Linked DNA regions of Homo sapiens. The protein of the gene in region 2 interacts with the protein of the main gene of each other region in a pairwise test. Each region holds a gene or a part of one and is shown on either strand. Other genes may lie near its edges.

What was found.
Region 1: the proteins of RUSC2 (region 2) and MAGEC1 interact in a two-hybrid assay, tested with the Homo sapiens proteins (one study listed by BioGRID and IntAct).

The regions. Positions count from the first base shown.
Region 1 is NC_000023.11:141,902,232-141,906,699, reverse strand, and holds the start of MAGEC1 (melanoma-associated antigen C1), read right to left. Parts: upstream 2,807-4,468; 5' UTR 2,722-2,806; intron 1,984-2,721; 5' UTR 1,886-1,983; intron 1,731-1,885; 5' UTR 1,628-1,730; coding exon 1,624-1,627; intron 1,292-1,623; coding exon 1-1,291.
Region 2 is NC_000009.12:35,496,463-35,500,271, reverse strand, and holds part of RUSC2 (AP-4 complex accessory subunit RUSC2), read right to left. Parts: intron 1-3,809. UniProt on the Homo sapiens protein: Associates with the adapter-like complex 4 (AP-4) and may therefore play a role in vesicular trafficking of proteins at the trans-Golgi network.

The DNA.
Region 1 (4,468 bases), on a different chromosome or scaffold from region 2:
TGAGCACTCTCAGGAGAACTCTGTAAAATACTCAATAAAGTAGAGGAGAAGGAGGAGGTCATAGGAATCTGGAGAGGAGACTGGGGAAAACCCTCAAAAGTACTGTGAGTTCTCTCAGGGGAACTCTGGAAAAGACTCAGTAAAGTGGAGGAGAAGGAGGGGCTCCCAGGAATCTGGAGAGGAGACTGGGGAAAACCCTCAAAAGTACTTTGAGCACTCTCAGGAGAACTCTGGAAAATACTCAATAAAGTAGAGGAGAAGGAGGAGGTCATAGGAATCTGGAGAAGAGACTGGGGAAAACCCTCAAAAGTACTGTGAGTTCTCTCAGGGGAACTCTGGAAAAGACTCAATAAAGTGGAGGAGGAGGAGGAGCTCACAGGAATCTGGAGAGGAGACTGGGGAAAACCCTCAAAAGTACTCTGAGTTCTCTCAGGGGAACTCTGGAAAAGACTCACTAAAGTGGAGGAGAAGGAGGGGCTCACAGGAATCTGGAGAGAAGACTGGGCAAAACCCTCAAAAGTACTCTGAGTTCTCTCAGAGAAACTCTGGAAAAGACTCAGTAAAGTGGAGGAGGAGGAGGGGCTCACAGGAATCTGGAGAGGAGACTGGGCAAAACCCTCAAAAGTACTCTGAGTTCTCTCAGGGGAACTCTGGAAAATACTCAATAAAGTGGAGGAGAAGGAGCGGCTCACAGGAATCTGGAGTGGAGACTGGGGAAAACCCTCAAAAGGACTTTGAGTACTCTCAGGGGAACTCTGGAAAATACTCACTAAAGTGGAGGAGGAGGCGGCGCTCACAGGAATCTGGAGAACAGACTGGGGAAAACCCTCAAAAGGACTTTGAGTACTCTCAGGGGAACTCTGGAAAATACTCAATAAAGCAGAGGAGAAGAAGGAACTCGCAGGATTCTGCAGAGGAGACTGGACATCCTCACCCTCAGGAGGGCTCTGAGAAATCTCTAGAGGAGACAGGGAGTCCTTCCCCTCAGGAGAACTCTGAGAATTCTGGAGAGGAGACTGGGTGTCGTCGCCCTCAGGAGAACTCTGGGGAATCTGGAGAGGAGACTGGGAGTCCTTCCCCTCAGGAGGTCTCTGGAGAGGATCCGAGGAGTCCTCCCCCTCAGAACGACTCTGAGGACTCTGGAGAGGATACAGGGTGTCGTCGCTCTCAGGAGAACTCTGGGGAATCTGGAGAGGAGACTGGGAGTCCTCCCCCTCAGGACAACTCTGAGGACTCTCAGAGGAACTCTGGAGAAGACTCGGCATCCCAGCAGTAGGCATATCCTTGTCCCCTGGAGAACGCAGAAGCAGAGAGGAGGATGAGGATGAGAAAGAAAAACAGGAGGAGGACGAGGGGAATAAAAAGTGGAAAGAGGAAGAGAAAATGGAGGAAGCTTCCTCCTCTTCCTCATCTGGGGGATCCTCTGCATCTACCAACTCCAGTATGAAAATTGCCTTCTGGAAGCCTTGCTCAAAGCTGGGGCGTGGAAGGTTTAGAAAGAGAGGCATGATGAATATTGTTCAGGAGCAGCAGGTAAACGTGTGAACACGAATAGGTATGATGGGATCCCACAGGACTGAGGGAGAGAGGGACAGTGCCAGTGGCCTCAGCTGAGAAACTCACCCATGATGGCTCTGACAAAGGCCGGCTTACAGCTCTTCTTCTCTTAAGGTGGTGCTCTAGGGCCTCACAGGTCGCCTGTCTTCCTAGGGGGTTTGTCTTCTGGGAACCTGTAGAAGGACGCGAGAAAGCACCTCGGGGCACAGCTGGCAGGCAGAGCCTGAGGCACCAGGAATGACAGTGGGTGGCTACAGGCCGGGTGCTGCCAGGTCTGCCCTGTTTCTGGGGGTAGGGCCCTTGGTACACAGTCAGGTCGTGCACTCACCTTGACTCCTGGCACTGCCTGGGCCTCCTCTGCTGTGGTGCTTTTAGGATGTATGTGTCCCTCACACCCAGGTCTTCAACTCCTGCTTTCTGGAGCACCTGCAAGAGGAAGGGAGGGAGCCCCTCCAGCTAAGACGGCAGCTGGGGCTGGCCAGACTCCCAGAGTCCCACAATTCTGAGGTTCGTGACCCCCTCAGAATTCAATTAGCATTGTCACATTTTCTCAGACAGGGCCAGGCCCCCACCACTCTGCTGGCCTGAGGAAAAACCTCAGGAAAACTCCACATCACTGAGAGCAGTGGGAGGTAGTGAGGTGGCAGCCACCTCCCAGCACTCTACCACGGGGGCGGTCCCTGTGGCCTCACGTCTGTTCTGACGCACATGTGACCCCTCAGTCCTCACTCTTGTTCCCAGCAGGGCCTGGGAATCTTCCCTCTGCCAACTGGAGGCAGCTCCCCATGCTGACTTGCCATGGGACCCCCAGAACAAGGCCTCCTCCTCCCCCTCCCCTACACCCCTCACCCAGCAGTGAGAGGGTGGCCGCTCAGCCTCAGCCACCTGGGGAGCTCTATGGGGGCTGATTTGAGGAGCAGGGTGGGAATCTCTGGGAATCTGTCCTCTGAGGTGGGGGTTCCCCCGGTCCTCCTCAATGCCTTCCTATTTATTCTCTAGAGGGCCGGCATTTCCTCCCTTCTTCTGCCGTGAGGACACGTCCCTCAGCCCTCGGCTACCATCTTCGTTTCCGCCACCTACAAGTGCCACCGCAGGGATAGGGCAGGCCAGGGCTGCTTCTCTCTGTGGTGGGGTTGTCCCTCACTTCTCCCTCGGGGCCCTCACCTTGAAGACTGGATAGGTCTATAAGTCTCCTCCCTCCGCTGACCTGAGACGATCCTCGTCACAAAATGCCTCAGGTCCTTCAGACTCCCAAGATGGCCGCCGGGAAAGCACATCCGGCAAAGCACATCCGGGAACTCTGTCAGGGTTGATCAGGGCTGACAGCCCGGATAGCGTGGGGCGGGGCCTCCTCTCAGAGGAGGAAGGCGCCCCCCCCCCGCCGCCCGCTTGTCAGCCTCCTTTCCATCCCTTCCTTCCCACCTCCAGGATGTGCTCCAAACCTTTCTGCTCACTCCCTAAGCCCTGCTGACCTCTTCCCTCCCACCTCCCCAGTCCTTGACACTCACACCCCACCTTTTTCCAGGGCTGACAGCAGGGAGTGGCAGGGTGCAGCCTGTGCCTCCCCCGTGTTCGGAGGTCACTGTCCTTCGACAGAGTTCTCTTCTTGTTGAGTGGCCAGCCCTGGGGCTACTCCCTCTGTTTAACTGAAGCTGCCCTCCTCAGAGAAAATCTCCCCTCTGGCTGACTCCCAAAATGGAAGTCAGAAATTTGTAAATCTGGGGACCCTGATGGGCTCCTCCATGGCTGGCAGCAGGCACAGGGACAGGACAGGCAGCACTACCAGTCATGGGTGTTCCCTTCCTGCCTTCCTGAGAGGCTGTTCCTGGACTCCTGACATTGTCTGGGCTCCCTGCCTCTATGCATCTGAGTCTTTCACCTCCGAATAAGCCCCTCCCATCCTTGAGACCTGCAAGGTGCAAGAGAGGTAGAATCACATCCATCCACAGTGGGGTATGGCCTCCCAGACTCCAGGTAGGGCTCCACTGCCCTCCGTCTGAAATGGCATGGGAGGGACCCTCAGTCTTCCTCAACCTATTATTCCTGATACGGCCTCCACTCCCTCCCTCTTCTCTCCAGGGACTGTTTTTCAGATCAAGGTTCCCATTTCCATGAACCCCCCAAGAGGGACTGGAGCACGCTAGCGTCTCTCCCTAATGGCCCTGCCCAAGGCCTCCTAGCAGTGAAAACGGGCAGGTTTTTGGGGATCCTCCTGTGTCCGTGGTGGGGTAGCTCACCAGTCCATCCTCTGTATCAGCCTGGGGATGCCTAGAAGGCCCCCCTCCTGATCTTCCGCTCTCATGATCTGAAGTGAGACTCACCTAAGCACAGCCTTCTCCTCTTTCTACACGCTAAGACGTCAGGGGACAGCACTGTGGGTCAACATGCCCCTGGGCCTCCCAGGGATGACAACAGGTGGGGAGCTGGTTTCTGTGGATCCTCTTCTTTGTGGGCAGGAGGTTTCTGCAGTTTTCCCTCAGAGGCCTCATCTGACTACTGGCTGGTCCTGGGTCTTCCTATCCTTCCCAAGATGACAGTATGACACAGGGAAAAAAGTAATGTGACTTTACCCTGAAGAAAACTGACAAACACTAGGTCACCATGGTGATCAAAGTAACATCATCAGTGACAAATTGTGTTGGTATTATGTGCCGTCGGTATGATATGATAAGAATGGCACTTCACTTCTCTGTTCATCTTCCGAGAAAACGTAACCTACATCAAATCATAAAAAATAATCACTTAATTCCCAATCAAAGGCTATTTTACAAAATACCTGACCATACACCTCCAAACTGTCAATGTTTTCAAAATCAAGAGAAGTCTCAGTGAACTGGCACAGCCAAAGGGCATTTAAAGAGACATGATGAACAAGTGTAATGGCGTATCCTCAGGGTATCTTGGGACAGAA
Region 2 (3,809 bases):
GCCTGTCATCTATGTAAGATGTGACTTGCTCCTCCTTGCCTTTAAGTCCTTTAAACCTCTTTCTTTTGTAAATTGCCCAGTCTTGGGTATGTCTTTATCAGCAGCATAAAAACAGACTAATACAGTAAGGCAGAAACGTCTGAATCACTAGGCTTTGGGAGATGTTTAAAAGGAAATCATTAGTCTTATAGAAAAACTCTAGCTATCCGGAACTCTAGAAAAATAAGCTGTTCTGTTTGGCTATAACTTTAAATAAATAGAATACAGCCAACTTTAACAAAGTTTGACTGTATCTTTAAACAGAAATAAACAACTTTCAAAAAACAAGTAAAGAACATTTTGGAAGAGAAACAACTTGAGGATGAACGGGACTAGTAGTAGGTTCCCAACTTTCTCCCCTGCAGTTTTTGCTTTTTACCTTGGGTTCATCTAAATCCTATCTATGCTGCCTTTAGGAGAACTTTGCTCTTTTTCTTTTGCCTGGGCGTGGATAAAAATAAATGTCCATTTTCCCTAAGTACACTAAATACAAGGGTGCATTTTCTTTTTTTAAAAAGAATTATACAGGAAAAGAAAGGAAGCACAAAGTATAAAAACAGATAAATTAAATACAGATTTTTTTGGATCCTAAGATAAACAAGTTAAGTATAGACTTTTGATCCTAAGATAATTAAACTTTAGCCAGAAGTTGGCTGGCCCTATTTTTCTTTCCACCCAGTTATCAGTCTATTGTCCTTGTCTGCAGGAACTCACACAAGAAGCCAAAAATACAACACATACCTCAGAGTTTACCATCTCATTTTCTTGAAGATAAAAGACTTTTATTAAACCAACAATTCCAAGGAACAGAGGGTTTCTTCCTAAAGTATCAAAATTAATTTTTTAAAAACTTTAAGTGTTTTGGCAGAACTTTTTAAAATGTATTATGTAGGCTATAATTTAACTTTTCTTGATGACTCACTACTATTTTGTTTTTTGTTTTTGTTTTTGAGAGTTTCACTCTGTCGCCCAGGCTGGAGCACAGTGACACAATCTCAACTCACTACAGCCTCTGCCTCCTGGGTTCAAGCAATTCCTGTGCCTCAGCCTCCCAAGTAGCTGGGATTACATGTGCATGCCACCACGCTTGGCTAATTTTTGTATTTTTAGTAGAGCTGGGCTTTTACCATGTTGCCCAGGCTGGTCTTGAACTCCTGGCCTCAAGTGATCTGCCTGCCTCAGCCTCCCAAAGTGCTGGGATTACAGGCATAAGCCGCCACGCCTGGCCTCACTACTGTTAACATTAATAATATACCAGGCTAAAATAATGTTGTTTTCAGTGTCTATTAAGGACTTGCATACCAAATCAACAATCCCATAAGGATTGTGTGTTAAGAGAAATGGTTCACTTTTGCCATTTCTTTTTTCTTTTTTTGTTTTTTTTTTTTTGAGATGTAGTCTCACTCTGTCGCCAGGCGATCTCGGCTCACTGCAACCTCTGCCTCCTGGGTTCAAGTGATTCCCCTGCCTTAGCCTCCTGAGTAGCTGGGACTACAGGCACGCACCACCACACCCGGCTAATTTTTTTTTTGAATTTTAGTAGACATGGGGTTTCACCATGTTGGCCAGGATGGTCTTGATCTCCTGACCTCGTGATCCACCCACCTCGGCCTCCTAAAGAGCTGGGATCACAGGCGTGAGCCACCGCGCCTGGCCTCTTTTTCTTTCTTTTTTTGAGACAGAGTCTTGCTCTGTCTCCCAGGCTTGAGTGCAGTGGCATGATCTCAGCTCAGTGGCATGATCTTGGCTCACTGCAACCTCTGCCTCCCGGGGTCAAGCAATTCTCCTGCCTCAGCTACCCAAGTAGCTGGGATTACAGGCAGGCGCCAAGATGCCTGACTAATTTTTGTATTTTTAATAGAGACAGGGTTTCGCCATTTTGGCCGGGCTGGTCTCAAACTCCTGATCTCACGTGATCTGCCTGCCTCAGCCTCCCAAAGTGCTGAGATTACAGGCATGAGCCACCAAACCTGGCATTCTTTTGCCATTTCTATTTAACAGTCCTGGAATTCCTACCTGAGTAATTAGGTAAGAAAAAGAAATAAAAGGCATACAAATTGGGAAAAAAAAAAAACCAAAACTAAAATTATCTCTGTTCCAAGGTTACACGATCTTGTATGGAGAACACCCTAAAGATGCCACAAAAACATTAGAACTAATAATGATTAGTTGCAAATACCCTAAGCATTTTTTAGTGTCAGCAATGATGCAGGGTACAAAATCAACACATAAAAACCAGCTTTTTTATTTAATTAGCTGAGAATATAGGCAAAGTTGTTCTACTGTCCTGTAGTACATGTATAATTTTCCTATGGCAGTTACAACAAAAGATAGGAGAAACAAAGTTCCGTCTAAGTGTGACAGATGTAGATACATATCTTTCACAATGTTCCACAGGGACAGAGAAGTGATAAATCCTGCACCAAAGGAGTGAAAGGAGGAGACTGAATCTGCATGCCCAATGATCTCATGTTTAATAGCCTCTACATCTACTAATGGGCCCACTGCCAATGCAAGAGGGTCAGTTAAGTGGACATGAGTGTGCATATCATTAATAATATCAATGTCTTTAATGTCTGCAGTTAATGTTTTAATCACCCTAGGTCTGGAGATCTTCTTGGGGTATAATGAAGATCTTGTTGTCCTAAGATAGCTTCCCACAGATGTGTTTATTAGGATATACAATCTGCTGCCGACTTCAGGAGAAGTAGCATATAGTATTCGGATATATGGCTGGTAATACATAATTGTGATGTTCTTATACATGGCCAGGGGATACAGAGTTGTTGACCCATGGAACAAATTCTACCCAAATGGGTTTGCAACACCAAAACAAAACAGTTCTCCAGTTTACTAACCCAATTAAGTTCTTTTCATCCACAACAGCTCAACAAATGGGGTCATATCAGTAAGGGGTTGTACAGTAAAGATCTGCAAGAAAAGACTGAATGTTGCTTCTCAGTGATGGCTGCACTATCAATTAATGGGTTCAACATATCCACAATGTACTGCTGTGTCGTATCTCTCTTCCCTCAATGAGAAATCATGACAACTTGGCCAGATGCATCTGAACAGTCTACACCGAACCTGTCATCTAGAAACTTGTACTCACTCTCTAAGGGGAAGGACAGGAGAGGTGCAGATCGTCAAACTTTACATGGGTTGGATGCTCAAGTACTTGCCCATTAAAGATGCTTGACTGTGTAGTCACTATTCGTTTTGTGAGGATTAAATGCCAGATTCAAGTATACATACTCATAGTTTAATCTCAGCTATGCCAGGTGTGCTCAGTATCAGTGGGGAAGATGAGCAATAAAGACAATTTTAACCTTAGCGTCCTCTAGGCAAAAACATAACTGTCTTTTGTACAGCTGTCAAGTGAGTGGCCATGTGTCAGGGCCATTTCCACAATAACACCATGTAGTGCATGGATCTGTTACATATTGTTTTACTATAGTATATCCAGCTTAATCAGGTGCAGGGCGACAGTTGAAGGAGTACTCCTGGAAAATGCCTAAGATATGTAGATCTCTAGGATCTTGCACCTTCTGGTGGTTGCATGAAATTCTTCAGAGGAATCATCAGTGATAGTAAATTTACATGTTACATTCATAACAACTCTTATGGGAAATTTAGGATATTCAAATAGGACAACACCAGGAATTGACGTATCACAGAACTTGGTTTACAACAGTCCGAGCATGGATCCCATGCATCACCTTCAGCAGGAGGGGCAGATGGGCTGGCCAAGTGCAAGCTTGATAGAGCGG